Linked DNA regions of Homo sapiens: region 2 is linked to region 1. Evidence: fine-mapped QTL for protein levels in blood plasma. A gene starts in region 1. The other region holds a variant in brackets. All regions are shown on one strand. Distances are between the middles of the regions. Region 1 holds the start of RHOC (ras homolog family member C). Region 2 overlaps WNT2B (Wnt family member 2B).

The links. A credible set is the group of variants that fine-mapping cannot tell apart. PIP is the chance, under the fine-mapping model, that this variant and not a neighbour inherited with it causes the effect. The UK Biobank Pharma Proteomics Project read protein levels with antibody pairs (Olink). The fine-mapping took linkage between variants from a reference panel, not from the people measured, so its PIPs are less certain.
Region 2: its variant is the best candidate, but not a certain one, in a credible set for the plasma level of the RHOC protein (UK Biobank, PIP 0.61).

What each region holds. Positions count from the first base shown.
Region 1 is chr1:112,702,405-112,710,404 of GRCh38, forward strand. RHOC (ras homolog family member C) reads right to left here and starts at 4,723. Exons shown (of 6, transcript NM_175744.5): 1 at 4,674-4,723; 2 at 2,696-2,764; 3 at 1,240-1,402; 4 at 595-715; 5 at 159-289. The coding sequence starts at 1,395. PPM1J (protein phosphatase, Mg2+/Mn2+ dependent 1J) reads right to left here. Exons shown (of 10, transcript NM_005167.7): 10 at 7,594-7,906. The coding sequence ends at 7,759. RefSeq lists enhancers at 1,832-2,386, 3,134-3,183 and a silencer at 4,443-5,162.
Region 2 is chr1:112,515,754-112,523,753 of GRCh38, forward strand. It overlaps WNT2B (Wnt family member 2B), which reads left to right. Exons shown (of 5, transcript NM_024494.3): 3 at 387-664; 4 at 1,368-1,632; 5 at 4,527-8,000. The coding sequence ends at 4,756. It overlaps ST7L (suppression of tumorigenicity 7 like), which reads right to left. Exons shown (of 15, transcript NM_017744.5): 15 at 7,761-8,000. Among named protein-coding and RNA genes, the nearest start is that of WNT2B, 11 kb to the left of the region's middle. The variant G/C (reference allele first, on the strand shown) is at 3,584.

The DNA of each region.
Region 1 (8,000 bases):
CCTCATCAGACACAACCCTATGGGTCCTCCCTCACCAGGAGATATTACTGTTTCCCCTAACACACGGCAGTAGCTGGAGAGAAGTTCCCTTTGCCCGTCTGCAACCCCTCAGAGGGTGCATTCTTCCCCAGGGGCTCCAGCCTGGCAGCCGTACCCACCTGCTTCATCTTGGCCAGCTCTCTCCTGGTGTGCTCGTCTTGCCTCAGGTCCTTCTTATTCCCCACCAGGATGATGGGCACGTTGGGGCAGAAGTGCTTCACCTCTGGGGTCCACTTCTCAGGAATGTTTTCTGTGTAGACATGCACCAACAGGTGTCGGTGCCTCCACTTAAGCTAGAAAGCTCCCCTGGGGGGGCCCTCATCTTCCCAGAGCAGTCTTAGAAGCCATTCAGCATGATGGTCCCTTTCACAGCTCAAAACCTCAACAGTAGTATGCCCTCAGAGGGCCAGTTACCACAGTAAAGGAGACCAACAGGGCCTGAGTGCTCCCCTGCATCCCCACCCCCACCTCTGAAGATGACTGAAGACAGGCCAAGGCACGAGACCTCTGGCTGATTCCAAGGGGTTCTCAGTCCCCTCCCTCCAATCCCCTCACCCAGGCTGTCAGGGCTGTCGATGGAGAAGCACATGAGGATGACATCAGTGTCCGGGTAGGAGAGAGGCCGCAGTCGATCATAGTCTTCCTGCCCTGCTGTGTCCCACAGAGCCAGCTCCACCTGACACACAGGGCCAGTGAGTAGCTGGCCTGAGGGCCCCAACCCTGCCACCCAAAGGTCCCCTGAAACCACTGTCCTTCGGGCTCACTGAACTTCTTTATTTGAGCACCTGCTATGCACCAGGCATTATATTAATCACTGTCCCACAACATAAATTAGGTCAGTTTGTTAAAGAAATCTAAGACGTGTTTGACCCTTGAGTTGCCACTGTGAGCACCATTATTTTGGTTAATTCTCACAACAACCCTTTGAGGGAGGTCTTACCATCATCCCCATTTTGCAGGTGGGGGAGCTTAAACCCAGAGGCAAAGGGACTCGGCCCAGGTTACAGAGCCAGTCTGTGGGAGAACCAGAAAGTATATCCAGGTTTTTTAAGACTGCAGATTTACTTCCTAACTTTTACTGGTTCCAGCAGGGAGAATGAAGCAAAGACAGGGGTAGGAATGGGGAAGGACATACTAGGTCATTCAGTGACTGGGGGGCGGGGTCTCAGGGTGGGGTGGGAAGGGCATTTCTGCCTTCACCTGCTTGCCGTCCACCTCAATGTCCGCAATATAGTTCTCAAAGACAGTAGGGACGTAGACCTCCGGAAACTGATCCTTGCTGAAGACGATGAGGAGGCAGGTCTTCCCACAGGCACCATCCCCAACGATCACCAGCTTCTTTCGGATTGCAGCCATGGTGGGGCTGCCAGGAAAGACGTATTGGGGATTTGAGGAAAAGCCATTAAGTCCAAAAACACTTCTCTAGGGCCCCCAAACCTCCCTGGAAACCGAGGCATCTAGCAAAGGGACAGGGGGCTTGCTCAGGCATGTTCTGGCAAAACACCAATTGTGCGACAACAGAGCTTGAAATTCCTAATCTCTGGGTCAGGGACAGGTCTCCCTCGATGGGTTAGAATACAGTGGTGGGAGGTAGATGATGACCCCACTTGGGAGCTGGAAAACATGAGTTTCAATCTAATCCACTTGCCAACCTGGGGACTCCAGGTAGCTAGAGAGCTGCTCAGGGATGCGGGACGTCCAGGGAGCAAGCTTCTATCTACTTCACACATCAGGGTTTCGAGTCAGACTTCATTGGTTACCAGGATTTTGATGCATTTACAGTTTAATAATCTCTAAGGTCCAATCTAGAACAGACTGTCCCTCAGCACAAGTCATACCTGTCCAGTCACAAATGAGGAGTCCCTCTCTAGGACCAGAGTAGCAGAACCAGCTACCAGGTGGTAGGTGGGTAAAGGAAGAATAGTTATAGAGCCCCTAGGTGCCAGGCACTCTGTCGGGCATTTTGGCAGGAATTATCTCCTTCGGTACCCAGATGCCTGGAAGGTAGATGGTGCACTTTCCATTTTGACAAACCAGGAAACTAAGGCTCAGTGAGGTTAAGACAGATTCAGAGCTGTGGCTTATAAGGGGCAGGGACAGCACCCAAAGCAGGACTGTGTGACTCAAAGTCGTGCCTCTTCGACATGTCACCTCAGGGGCAGGAGGGAGAGCAGAAGCAGGGAAACCCAGACAGAGGACAGGGGTAGCAGCCAGCCAGCTTCCCTGGTCCACCCCACCCGGTCCCCAAAGCCCCAAGTAATACAAAGGAGGCTCAGTCCCAGCAATGCCCACAGCTCGAGTTTGGGCAGGCTGCCTTCCTCCCCCCTTCCTCCTAGGCCTGCCAGCAACACTGGGTCACTCAGCCCCCGGCAGGGGACAATGACCACACTGTAGGGAGCCACACATCTACCACAGCACAGTGACTGAGAAGAATCCACCAGGGAATCACCTCCACCCACTCTGGAACAGCCCCTTCCTCCCTCAGTCCAGCTCACCCGCATGCCCTGCCCACCCCTCCCTGTGACTCAGGGCAAGGAGTCAGCTTCCCGGGCTTCCATGTGTCCCCCACCCCCAGCACACACAGCGAGCATCTGCACAGTTCATCACACCTTCGCAGCTTCCCTCACTTCCTCCTTCCCTGGGGAGGGGAACTGACCTCCAGCCGGCTGAAGTTCCCAGGCTGCAGGAAGAGAGGGCGGGCTCTGGAGCTGAGATGAAGTCAAGGCTGTTGGGAAGGGGGAGGGGGCTAGAGTCTGGGCTGGGAGGAGCCCCAAAAGAAGAGACAAATGAGGGCCAGTCCCAGCACCAACCAGGCAGGGAGCAGTTAAGAAAGCGACGGTAACCTGATCTCAGCCTCAAACCTAGCTTTTTCTCTCAGTCCCACATCCTGTCAAACTGGGCTGACTGAACGCCTCTACTCCCCACACCCCACCACCACCTCACACTGCCCTTTAGGAAGCGAATACTCCAGCCCCAGGCCTCTTCCCTTCAACATAGATCCTGAGTGGCCCTTCCCTTGCCTCCAGACACATTCACAAAACTGTTGGTTTTGTGGACATGAGTCAGAGAATTTACAGGAGTTCAAAGTACACAGCCACACTCTTCCCACCACAAAACGGACTCTCTCTGATTCCCCAGAAGACAAGCAAGAAGGCATTCACCCTGTCGGCAGATCGCCTCCAGAAATGGAAACCATCCTCCAAAAAGAGGGTTCCTTGGGAATTCTATCCCGGTGACTGACGCTGGGATTTCTTCCAACTCCTCCACCCACTCCATTAGTTCACCTTGCCCTGTTTTGTAAAGATGGGCTGGGGTAGCCCCAACCTGGGGTGGGCAGTGTTGATGGAGGGCAATCACTACTGGGGTGAAAGCCAGTCACTTAGGCATGAGTATGCCACTGCTGTCCCCCCAGCAGGGTAATTCAGACGGCACCAGAGTGGTGGGAGGCAGAGGACAGAAACCCGGGGTTGAGGCATGCGTTAAGGGACCTGGAGCCTCCAGCCCAATTAGAAGACTTTCCCTCCAGGCTATGATTGGGCCAGAACAGCAGGCAGCCCAGGCCAGGACACTAGGCCCAAGGCCAAGATGGCATGGACAACTCCCTGTGAGAGGCAGCCCCAGAGGGACTGTCCCACTGACCCCTTAAGAGGGGCAACTGAGCCCCACACAGGGCCTGGAATGGAGCCTGGAACTTCTGGGGCCTTCCCCAAGACAAGACAGTGTGGCTACATCAGACCTCTCTCCAATCGCTCTCTTGAATTCCCAGATGATCCAGAGCGGCCGGTTGACTTTGCCGGCCCACCCTACACCTAGGGAAGGAATCCGTTCTGGAGATACCAAGAGATACTGCATTCTCAACTTTAAAACCAGAGTGAGGGCGGGACTCGGCCTCGGGATCCCAGTCCCAAACCCCAGGATACTCTTTCTTGGTTCGAGTATGAAGAAGGAGGATTCTCAATCTCATTTTCTCTCTCTCTCTCTCTCTCTACACACACACACACACACACACACACACACACACCACACACACACACACACACACACACACACACACACACACACACACACACACACACACACACACACACACACACAGAGTTGGATCCTTCCCCATCTCCCTTATCCTCAACACAAGCGGGCTCCAGGAACCGTCCAGGGCGGCGTCCAGACCCTGCCGAGCAGTGGCAGGCCCCAATGGTCACATCCCGCCCCTATTCCCGCCATACCTCCCTCCTGGCCTGGAGGAATTCCCACCCCATCCCACTCTAGGTCCCCTGCGGCCGCCCACCCTGGGGGCTGGGGCGTCTGAGTTGAAGTTCCCTCGCCCCTCGCCCGGCGGGGCAGGTTCCGGGAAGCTGGGAGGAGAAGGGAAGGGGCTCCGACTCGGACCTCAGGAGGCCAGAGCCCCTGCCGGCAGGTCCGGGCCCCCTCGCTGCAGCCCGGGGAGGGGCCGACGCGGTCCGACCACCGCCCAGCCCGGATGCCGACTCCGCTTGGAGGGAACGGGGTCCACGCCCAGGCCGAAGCCCCTCCTCGCACGGGCCCCGATCTCCGGGCCAGCGAGGAAGGGAAAGTGCTCTCCTGGGGACGAGTTCCCAAGACGCCCCACCGCCCGCAGCCCCGGCCCAGGGTACCTTCCGCTCCGCCGCCTCCAGCTGCGCGGCCGGTGCCGGAGGCTCAGACTGACCCCAGGGCCCCGCCCCGCCCTCCTCCAGCGCCGCGGCGGGGAGGGCGGGCCCGGCAGGGGGAGGGTCGGCCGGGGGCGGCCCTTGGCTCGGCCCGCCCCGGCCCCGCGCAGGGCCGCAGCCACCGGCCCCCTCCGCAGGCCGGGGACTGGGGGCCAGGGGCGTCCACCCCTCCAGGTCGGGGAGAGCCACGGGGAGATTCCTGGACTGCGGAGGAGCCGGGCGAGCGGGGGGAGCACGACCCGGGTGGACTCAGACTCTGCCCAGCCTTCAATCCCCTAGGGGAGGACCGGCGTCGGGAAAGTTAAGAGGTGCTCGGGGTGGGGTCAGGAAGGGCCGCTGCTGCCCTCCTGTGGCCAAGCGGCCACCCGCTCCTGCTGCACCTGGGACCTCGCGGGAAGCGGGACTGGGAAAGGGTATCCGCCGGGAGGTCCCAGGGCCCGGCGCGGGTGTGTTGGTTGGGGGGAGATGTCCACCCTCTTGTTCCTAGGATCGTACAGCCCAACGTCATCCCCCAAACTTGAAGACCTCTCAGAGCCGTTCAGACCCAGACCACCGTTCCTCCTCACAATTCGCTTTCTTCCCTGGGCCTGGAATTTCCAGGAGTCCAATTCCTACCTACTCCTCAAAGGGTGCGCCTAGAAATGCTTCTGGATCCCAGCTGTGAATTCTGTTCCCACTCCTAGGTCTGACTTGGCGCATAGGATATTTACCTACACGCGTATCTCCTTTCCCTGTAAGGGAGCTGAGGAGGTGGGAGTAGAATGAGGACGTCCACCAACATTTCATTGGCTTGTGCTTGGGACACTACACAGCTTAACCCTTTCAATATTCATCACAGATCTCTGGGGAAAATATACCCATCCCCTTTTGCCCATAGAGAAGCTGAGGTTCAGAGAAATCAAGTGGCTTACACAACTGTTTTTGACTTGTGACAGCAAGAATTCACACAGCCGGGCCTGTCTGGCTCCAAACTGGTGGTCTGGCCCTGCTACCTCACGGGCTCCTCCAGCCTGTCCCTTCCCCCGTTGTCTAGCAGAGTGAGTGGCACATAATAGGTTGTCAACAAATATTTGATGAATGAATGAATGTTAGGAGTCATACAGACTTTAAATATCTGAAGTGCAATCCAGACATTTGACAAATGTGAAAACAGGTCCGCAGCAGTTTGGCCCCAGGCCTCTTAACTGACTCAATGAACATTTCTCGAGGGTGAACTGAGAGCTATGTTCGGAAGATCCATTTCTGCCTTCAAACAACTTAGAGTCTAAATGAGGAATGCAATTTCAAGATAGCTAACATTTATTGAATCCATATTACATGGACCTGGGTCCACATACATTAACTACAAGAATCCCATGAGGTAGCTATCTCCATTTTACTGAGAAGCAAATTGAGGTTCAGAGAGGTTACAGAGCTAGTGCTGGGTCTGACACTAGAACCCAAACAGCTGAACTCTAGAGCCCCTGTTCTTAATTCCTACTCCCTACTGACTCCTAATGTAGACAGTTACAATACCGGAGGTCATTGCTGTAGTGTGGGCATGTGTGGGCTGTGCGATACCCAGTCCTGAACAACAGGTGAAGTTCTCAAGATAAGGTGATGTGTAGATTTTTTTAATTTTAATTTTTTTTTGAGACAAGGTCTCTGTTGCCTAAGTGTGCAGTGGCAAGATCTCAGCTCACTGCAGCCTCAACTTTCCAGGCTCCAATGATTTTCCCACTTCAGCTTCCCCAGCAGCTGAGACTACAGGCGTGTACCATCACACCTAATTTTTGTATTTTTTGTACAGATGAGGTCTTGCTATATTGCCCAGGCTGGTGAGGGGCCTTTTCTAATTATTTTGCTCATCTTTATTTTTGCTTCCCTTAACTTACTTTGGGTTTAATTTGCTGTTCTTTTTCTAGCCTCTTAAGGTGGAAACAGATCACTGATTTGAGATCTTTATTCTTTTCTACTATAAGCAATACTCTTAATTTCCTTGGATGCTTAACTGCTTCCCACAGGCACTCACCACTACATTCAGCTAATTTTTTATTTTTTTGTAGAGATGGGGTCTCACTATTGCCCAGGGTGGTCTTAAACTCCTGGGCTTAGCAGTCCTCTCACCTCTGCCTCCCAAAGTGTTGGGATTACAGGCGTGAACCACCGTGTCCAGCAGTAGATTTTGAATAAGTTGGAGCTACTAAAAGCCCACAGTTATGCAAACCCCAGGAAGTTGGTGGTGGTGGTAAAAAATGAAGCTGGAGAAGGAAGCAGTGGCTGGATCATGAAGGTCCTTATATGCCATGCACAGGAGTTGAGTGTTGATTTTGTTCTAGGCGCAATAAGGAGCCACTAAATTTAGGAGGCCAATATAGTAAAAGGTGGTGGTGACTGAAGGCGGGGAGAGATGGAGATAAGTAGAGAAATACTTTTAAAGGTCTATAGTCAACAATACTTAGTGATCAATTACCTTGATGAGAAAGAAATGAAAGCCAAGGGTGACCAACTCCAAGATTTCTAACTGGAGCAGCAGAGCTGGTGCCCATTGAGGGGATATACCAGGAGAAGGAACATGCTATGGAGGGCAGTCGTGAATTTAGTTTGAGGTATTTGAATTGAAGTGCCAGCAGGCTATCCAGGAGACATTCGGGAGATGACTGGTATGTGTGGGTCTAAAGCTCAGGAAGGGTCTGGGCAGATGGGTGAGGCCACAGAAGTGGATGATGACACTCACAGCAAATGCGTGGAGTGGAAAGAGTGGGGGTGGAATAAAGAACCTGGGGGACACCACATTTCTAGAACTGTTCTGGTGCTCTTTCCACCACCCCACAGAGCTTTCTTCTTATCTTTCAGTTTCTAGTCAAAGCAAATACAGACACACACCTTTATCCATCTCGTTTATTTGCCAATAGCTGTAATTTTGGATATAGCGGACATCCCTTCTTCAGTTAAGTTGCCACTAAAGAAGGGTCAGGGAGACAACTTCAGAATTTGGGCTGTGAGAGGAGTAAGTATGGAGAGGCTAGTGGGAGGGATGGTGTTCAGCCCCTCAGGAGTAACTGCCTGGCCCTCCCAGGGGGATGACGAAGACAGAGATGTCATCCCCGGAACCCAGCTTGTTGTTGGGGAGACGCCAGCCACGGTCTCGGGGGGTACCCCGGGCCCCCAGGACCAGAGCTTGGGCCAGAGCTGTATACCTGCCAGGAGCACACATGCACATTCATGTACCAACATGTATGTGGGAAGACAGATACACAGGCCCACATGTGGGGTCCCAAGCATTGCTTCCCT
Region 2 (8,000 bases), 190 kb before region 1:
GCAGAGTGGGCCTGAAAAGGCCTGGAATGTGGACTAAGGCAGGCTTAGCTGAGCCAGTGCTGGCACTCAGTGGGAGGGGATGATTCACCAGGAGACTTTTCAATGGATGGACACAGGGAATTTGGCAGGAAACAAGAGTATAGGTCAGCTCAAAAGGTCAGATATACAAAGAAGTGGATAGAGAGTAGTGAGGGCTGAGGGGAAGAGGTCAGATACTCTGGGGAATGCTCTTGGAAATGAAAGGCACCTTGAATAAAGGGGGTGTAGGGGTGACTCTGGGAAAGAAAATTAGGGAAGAGGTTTCAGAGTCAGAGGTTGTATGGGCTGAAGAAGGGGACAGACATGGGCCTCTTTCCTGAAGCACACCTCTACAATTCTCTCTCTAGGTAGCCGAGAGGCAGCTTTTGTATATGCCATCTCATCAGCAGGGGTAGTCCACGCTATTACTCGCGCCTGTAGCCAGGGTGAACTGAGTGTGTGCAGCTGTGACCCCTACACCCGTGGCCGACACCATGACCAGCGTGGGGACTTTGACTGGGGTGGCTGCAGTGACAACATCCACTACGGTGTCCGTTTTGCCAAGGCCTTCGTGGATGCCAAGGAGAAGAGGCTTAAGGATGCCCGGGCCCTCATGAACTTACATAATAACCGCTGTGGTCGCACGGTCAGTACTCATGTCTGTGTAAGTACACTCATATTTGCTGGGGGTGACCAGTGTGTGTGACCATGGACTAAATAAATGTGAAGATGGAAGAGCTGAAGGCTTCTGGGTCACTTCCAAAAGCCCCAACATCCTGGGACAGGAGAACTAAATGCAAGGGAGCTTAGGAATGCCTAGGGTCAATCAGGTGCGTGAAGAGTCTTCACATAGGTGGAAAGTAGGAAAAGGTGGAGAAAAGAAGTAACTTTTTAAGAAGGAAAAGAACTGCCTTCATAAAGACTGAGAGGATAAGAGGTTGTTCTAGTCAGTTCCCTGGTATTTGAACATCTTCTATGTGCCTAGTACTATGCTGGAAAATGGCACACCACTAAAGTAGAAGGCATGGTACCTGGCACTCTAAAACGTGAAAAGTAGAGGATGTGCAAGCACACTGTCATCGTGAACAGAATCCTGTGGCTCTACAGTTCAGTGGGCTGTCATGAAAAGGAAAGCACTGTTGGTTCAGGCAGATTTCCTGGAAAAAGAGTTTCTTGAACTTGATCAGGAAGAATGGGTGGGATCTGATGTGGGAGAGAACCGAGAGCTCAATCGGCCAGCCAGGGCCAGGTCCAGCCTATCTCAGAGCACTCATCCTTTTGGACCTAGGGATGACTAAAATGTGTCCTGACCAGCTACTTCTCCCTTAACTGCCTTCCCCCTCCCCCAGGCTGTGCGGCGGTTTCTGAAGCTGGAGTGTAAGTGCCATGGCGTGAGTGGTTCCTGTACTCTGCGCACCTGCTGGCGTGCACTCTCAGATTTCCGCCGCACAGGTGATTACCTGCGGCGACGCTATGATGGGGCTGTGCAGGTGATGGCCACCCAAGATGGTGCCAACTTCACCGCAGCCCGCCAAGGCTATCGCCGTGCCACCCGGACTGATCTTGTCTACTTTGACAACTCTCCAGATTACTGTGTCTTGGACAAGGCTGCAGGTGAGTAAGGAAGGCAGGCAGGGACATGCAGTCCCAGTTCTTAGTGCAGGCACCCCTGGTTAATCATGGTCTGTTCAGTCTCAGGAGTTAGGGAAGGGGGTGCTGTGGGAGGAGGCAGTTTCCTCTCCACATGAACACCTGGTCATGAGATTGTTGCAGTCCACCAGGCCCAGTGCTGCCCAAGTAGAGAGGAGGTCACTCAGCTCCTTGAGGCCTGAGGTCATGCATCGCTCCTTTGTATCCCAGCATCTGGGATACAGTAGGCATTATTCAGGGTATGTTTAACTTAGTTACCTGTTTTCAGTTTTAAGCAATGTGTGGGCTGCACAGAAACATAAGATGCAGCCCTAAGCCTTTGGCTCTTCGCAATCTACTTAAAGAAATGAGACATAATGGGTAGACAAATGCAAAGAGAGATGGAGAAATCAATAAAGTTTATTTGAAAATGTAGGGAAAAAAAAGAAACTAGAATTTAAGCTGCTCCTTGAAGTGTAGGGAGTATCTGGATAGCTTGAGAGACGAGTGGGCAATTTCTTATCAGAGAGTAGTAGGTGGGAAAGCACATGATCTGTCCCAGGGACAGAGAACAGACCAATCTGCTGGGTAAAGGTTCTCTCTAAGGGAGATTAAAGCTAGAAAGATGTCCTTGAAAGGCTTTATCCAGTGTGCTGCCATTGAAGATTCTGAAACAGCTGAAAAAGAAACGAAGAAGAGATCCCTACCAAAGGCAGGTAAAGCAGCAAATGGTTGTTTTTCAGTCTGTTCGAGGTATTTGTGGTGGGATTCTTGGAGGTGCTGGAAGTTGATATGGTTTTTCCCCAAGGGAATGAAAGTTACCATCCTGGCTCACATTTCTGGTTCAGATAGGTTAAACTAGGAACATGCAATGCAGCAGAACTCTTCTCCTCTGGTTATTGCTGTGGGGCTCCCAGGCTCTTTTCTACAGGCTCAGCGTCAGGACTTGGGTGAAGTGGAGCCAAAAAACCTCAGCTATCTTCGGTACTGTTTGTTTTCACCCATCACTGTCATTCCTGGAAGAGTCAAGTGGCTTGGAGTAAAACTGGGCACAGAAAAAGGGTGGGGCTCTACCCAATTAATGAAGAAAGTAGTCTGTATACTTTGTAGGGTGCTAGAAGAAAAAAACTTGGAGCCCTTCTGATTTTCCTAGTGATTTCCTGCCACTAAGTATACTTTCCTCCCACTTGGTCTAATTCAGAGGGTCACTCTCTGGATACCTAGAAATAATTCCATAACATCTGAGGTGTAAACCTATACTACCATACTGAAAATACACCTTTAGGGAAGGAACTTTGGAGTTAGGAGGGAGGATAAGTCAAATGTGTGTTCGTTTTTCTCAGAGGCATAAAATTAGGCCTCCTAAAACCCAAAGTGGGCCCTGGAATTCAAAGAATATAAGTCATCCCAGAAAGAATATGGAGCCAGGAATTCCCTCCAAAGCAATAGAGTCCAATTGAACTTTCTGTGATGATAGAAATGTTTTCCTATCTCTGTTGTCCAATACAGTAGCAACTAGCCACATGTGATTACTGAGTACTTGGAATATAACTAGTGTGACTGAGGAGCTAAATTTTTTAGTTTAATTTTCATTAATTTAGATGTAAAAGACCATATGTGACTAGTGGCTGCTACCCTGGACAGCACAGCTCCACAGTGTAGAAGGGGTTTTTGGTGCCCAAGAGGACTTAAGACCCAGCCCTTGGAGTTAGGAGACTAACATATACAGTAGACCTAGTCAGTCCACATTCCAGACCAGTGGTCTCCTAACATTCTGGATCCTTTACTCCTATCATTAAAACAATTTGAGCATATATCTCCATTATATGTATATTTATTTATACCTGTGTTCCACTATATGAATATGTATATTATAAAACGTAAATATTTTAAATTGATGAGATAAAAAACATAGAAGTTCTAGCATTTTCCTCCC[G/C]TATCCCAGTGACATTTGGAGACTAATTCTGTAGAAATCAGTTAATCTATTCTCCGTTTTGAACCTAGGCTAGTCAGTTTCCCATCTCTGGATTCTTATTAACCATGGAAAAGCTTGGAGTAGATGCTCTCATGGGCCCAACTCATCCAAAAGTCTATTGATTTTATGATCTGTTGGCAGGATCTCTTTTGCTAAAATCAGTCAGAATGAGGTTCTAAGCATTCCCTATGCATGGGGAAAACATGATCCCTATCCTAGAGTTTCCACTGTAAGGGGAAGGGATAATGCTTAGGGATAATAGCAATAATAATAATGCAAGGGATATTACTTAGGAATTCCTTAGGAATATGCCTCCAGCCAGTCATGGTAATCAGTTCACCTCTTCAGATGAACAGAGATTATATCTAACAATCTATTATTGTGCTTATTTTCATATGAGAAACTAAGTTAATGTTTCATTTTGACTAAATCACACAACTAAGAGTGGTAGAACTGGGATTTGAATCCAGACAAGATGATGTCAGAGCCCATGCTTCTTTTTTTTTTTTTTTTTTTTGGAGACAGAGTTTCACTGTCACCCAGGCTAGAGTGCAGTGGTGCAATCTTGGCTCACTGCAGCCTCGACCTCCCAGCCTCGTGTTACTTTCACCTCAGCCTCCTGAGTATCTAGGACTACAGGCTCATGCCCATGGCACCTGGCTAATTTTTTAAGTTTTTGTAGAGACAGGGCTTGCTATGTTTCCCAGGCTGGTCTTGAATTCCTGGACTCAAGGATTCCTTCTGCCTTGGCCTTCCAAAATGCTGGGATGATAGGCATGAGTGAGCCACTGTGCCCAGCCCAAAAAAGCGATTCTTTTTATCTTCCTTCTGAGAATGTGGTTAAGGGTATCCAGGGCAGCTGAAGAGATAACTTTGTTCTCACTCCCTCTCTTCCCCAACCCAGGTTCCCTAGGCACTGCAGGCCGTGTCTGCAGCAAGACATCAAAAGGAACAGACGGTTGTGAAATCATGTGCTGTGGCCGAGGGTACGACACAACTCGAGTCACCCGTGTTACCCAGTGTGAGTGCAAATTCCACTGGTGCTGTGCTGTACGGTGCAAGGAATGCAGAAATACTGTGGACGTCCATACTTGCAAAGCCCCCAAGAAGGCAGAGTGGCTGGACCAAACCTGAACACACAGATACCTCACTCATCCCTCCAATTCAAGCCTCTCAACTCAAAAGCACAAGATCCTTGCATGCACACCTTCCTCCACCCTCCACCCTGGGCTGCTACCGCTTCTATTTAAGGATGTAGAGAGTAATCCATAGGGACCATGGTGTCCTGGCTGGTTCCTTAGCCCTGGGAAGGAGTTGTCAGGGGATATAAGAAACTGAGCAAGCTCCCTGATTTCCCGCTCTGGAGATTTGAAGGGAGAGTAGAAGAGATAGGGGGTCTTTAGAGTGAAATGAGTTGCACTAAAGTACGTAGTTGAGGCTCCTTTTTTCTTTCCTTTGCACCAGCTTCCCGATACTTCTTGGTGTGCAAGAGGAAGGGTACCTGTAGAGAGCTTCTTTTTGTTTCTACCTGGCCAAAGTTAGATGGGACAAAGATGAATGGCATGTCCCTTCTCTGAAGTCCGTTTGAGCAGAACTACCTGGTACCCCGAAAGAAAATCTTAGGCTACCACATTCTATTATTGAGAGCCTGAGATGTTAGCCATAGTGGACAAGGTTCCATTCACATGCTCATATGTTTATAAACTGTGTTTTGTAGAAGAAAAAGAATCATAACAATACAAACACACATTCATTCTCTCTTTTTCTCTCTACCATTCTCAACCTGTATTGGACAGCACTGCCTCTTTTGCTTACTTGCTGCCTGTTCAAACTGAGGTGGAATGCAGTGGTTCCCATGCTTAACAAATCATTAAAACACCCTAGAACACTCCTAGGATAGATTAATGTAGTAAGTCTGGCTAGGCCTTGTGTTGCCTTTTTTTTTTTTTTTTTTTTCTTTTCTTTTCTTCTCTTCCCATGCACTATTCTGGAGGTTTGCCAGGTTTGGGGAGACATGGAGTAAAAGAAAGATAGGCAACTCATGGATGGTGGGAGAGCAGGTAAGCAGGTCTGATCTCAAGGGCCCACATGAGGCATCAGTATATATTAGGCAGGTAGGGATCTCTGGCTTTGGTAATTCTTTATGAGAGGATCCTAGCCTTTGAAGCTGGGAGCAGGAGTCAGTGGCTACAGTGGGAAGGAGTACTGCAGGTTGGGGCCAAAGTGATACACAGCTTAGAAGGCAGCCTTCCTCCACTTACTCAACAAATCTTTATTTAGTGACTCTCCAAGTCCTAGTGATTATTATTATTGTTCACTCCACATTTGGCTTAATGGGTAATGCTATTACCCATTGCCTAACTAGGTTTGCAGTAGTGGAATCTCCAGAGATAGCAGGCTTAGTAAGCTGGAGGTAGGACATGAAGTCCCCCAAAACTTGATGTCCTATTTTTATGTGAGTTGGACAGTGGTTATCTTTTGCCTGTTGATATCTTAAAGCAGCAGAGTGGTATAGAAATTTGCGGTTATGACAGACCCGGGTTAAAAATCACAGCTGTGCCATTTGCTTTGATATTTTGAGCAAGGTAGCTAAATTTTCTGAGCTTCTATTTTCTCATCTGTAAAATGAGGATACGTACCTGTTCTTTTTTTTCTTTCTTTTTATTTCTTTTAGAGATAGGGTCTCGCTTTGTTGCCCAGGCTGGAGTGCACTGGCATGATCATGGCTCACTGCAGCCTCAAATTCCCAGGCTCAAGCAATCCTCCCACCTCAGCCTCCCCATTAGCTGGGACTACAGGGCCATGCCATCATGCCCAGCTAATTTAAACATAGTTTTCAGAGATGGAGCTCACTATGTTGCCCAGGCTGGTCTTGAATTCTTGGTCTCAAGCAATCCTCCCACTGCAGCCTTCCAAAGTGCTGGGCGTACAAGCGCAAGCCACTGTGCCCAGCTGTCAGACGCTGAGTTTTAATTATGCACCAAACTCCAGCCCGCAGATCCTCTTCACCAAAGCCCCTGGCTGGTCTAGCCCATCATGACTTCTCTAGGAACAGTCCTTCTTTAGGACTATAAAGTATTAACAAAAGTCTGTAGATTAAGGAGCCTGCATAAAGAATTCTGGATACAGGCCCCTGTCTTTCCAAAGTTCCTCTCCAATATCCCTTGGGGTCCTCATGTTTTTGAAGCAGCTTCACTCTGCACAGGCAGCAGGAGGTTGGGGGAGCCATAGCTCTGGGCCACGGGGGCAGATTTATTTGGATGATAGGACTAATATTTGTGTAACCTGCTGAGACCTGTGTGGGAGAGTTTAGGGTGGTTTTTCTTTTGGTGAGGGGATTTGCTCTGGTTTCACATCCATTAACACAAAACATGAGCTAGTCAGGGCCCTTGTGGTCTGCGGTAAGGGGATGCCTGTGGAGAAATGGGCCTGAGTGAGTCAGGCCAAGAGAATGTCTTCCTTCAGAATGGAGTCAACTGGATAACTGATGAGCCAATGGTGGGATTAAGGAGGGGGAAATGGGAGGGGAAGAGAACAGCTGACATCTTGAGGAAAGCTTTGGGGTAGTGGAGAGGTAAGGGGGTCATGGTCAGTCTGAACTCAACAATAGGGCTGAATGAATTTACCAAAGGAAGCTGCCTTATATTATATGCCAGGCTGCTGGGGAAAGCCTCAGGTCCTGGCCAGCCCCTGTTCTCACAAGAACATGCAGGTTACCACATAAATAATGGCATATGCCTTCCATAGGACGTCAACCTGACTTAAATCTACCTATACCCTACTCTCTATTCTTTGGTTTTTGGTTCTCATCCCTGTGGAAGGAAATGGGCCTCTTCTGGCATCTCATGCTACTCTGTGCTTTTCCTTGGGCTCCAAATTCTAGCTCATAAAGATGCAAGTTTTGCAATTTCCTATAAATGGTTAAGAAAAGAGCAAGCTGTCCAGAGAGTGAGAAGTTTGAAAAGAGAGGTGCATAAGAGAGAAATGATGTCCATTTGAGCCCCACCACGGAGGTTATGTGGTCCCAAAAGGAATGATGGCCAAGCAATTAATTTTTCCTCCTAGTTCTTAGCTTGCTTCTGCATTGATTGGCTTTACACAACTGGCATTTAGTCTGCATTACACAAATAGACACTAATTTATTTGGAACAAGCAGCAAAATGAGAACTTTATTTGGTGCAGTCAGGGCTCCATTTAGTTCCCTCACTCTGCTTCTAATCACCCCTTCTCCCAGCCCTCTTCTATTTGATAGAGGTCTGTCCCTCAGATCAGCAATGTCTTAGCCCCTCTCCTCTCTTCCATTCCTTCCTGTTGGTACTCATTTCTTCTAACTTTTAATAAACATTTAGGTATAATACATTACAGTAAGTGCTATTTA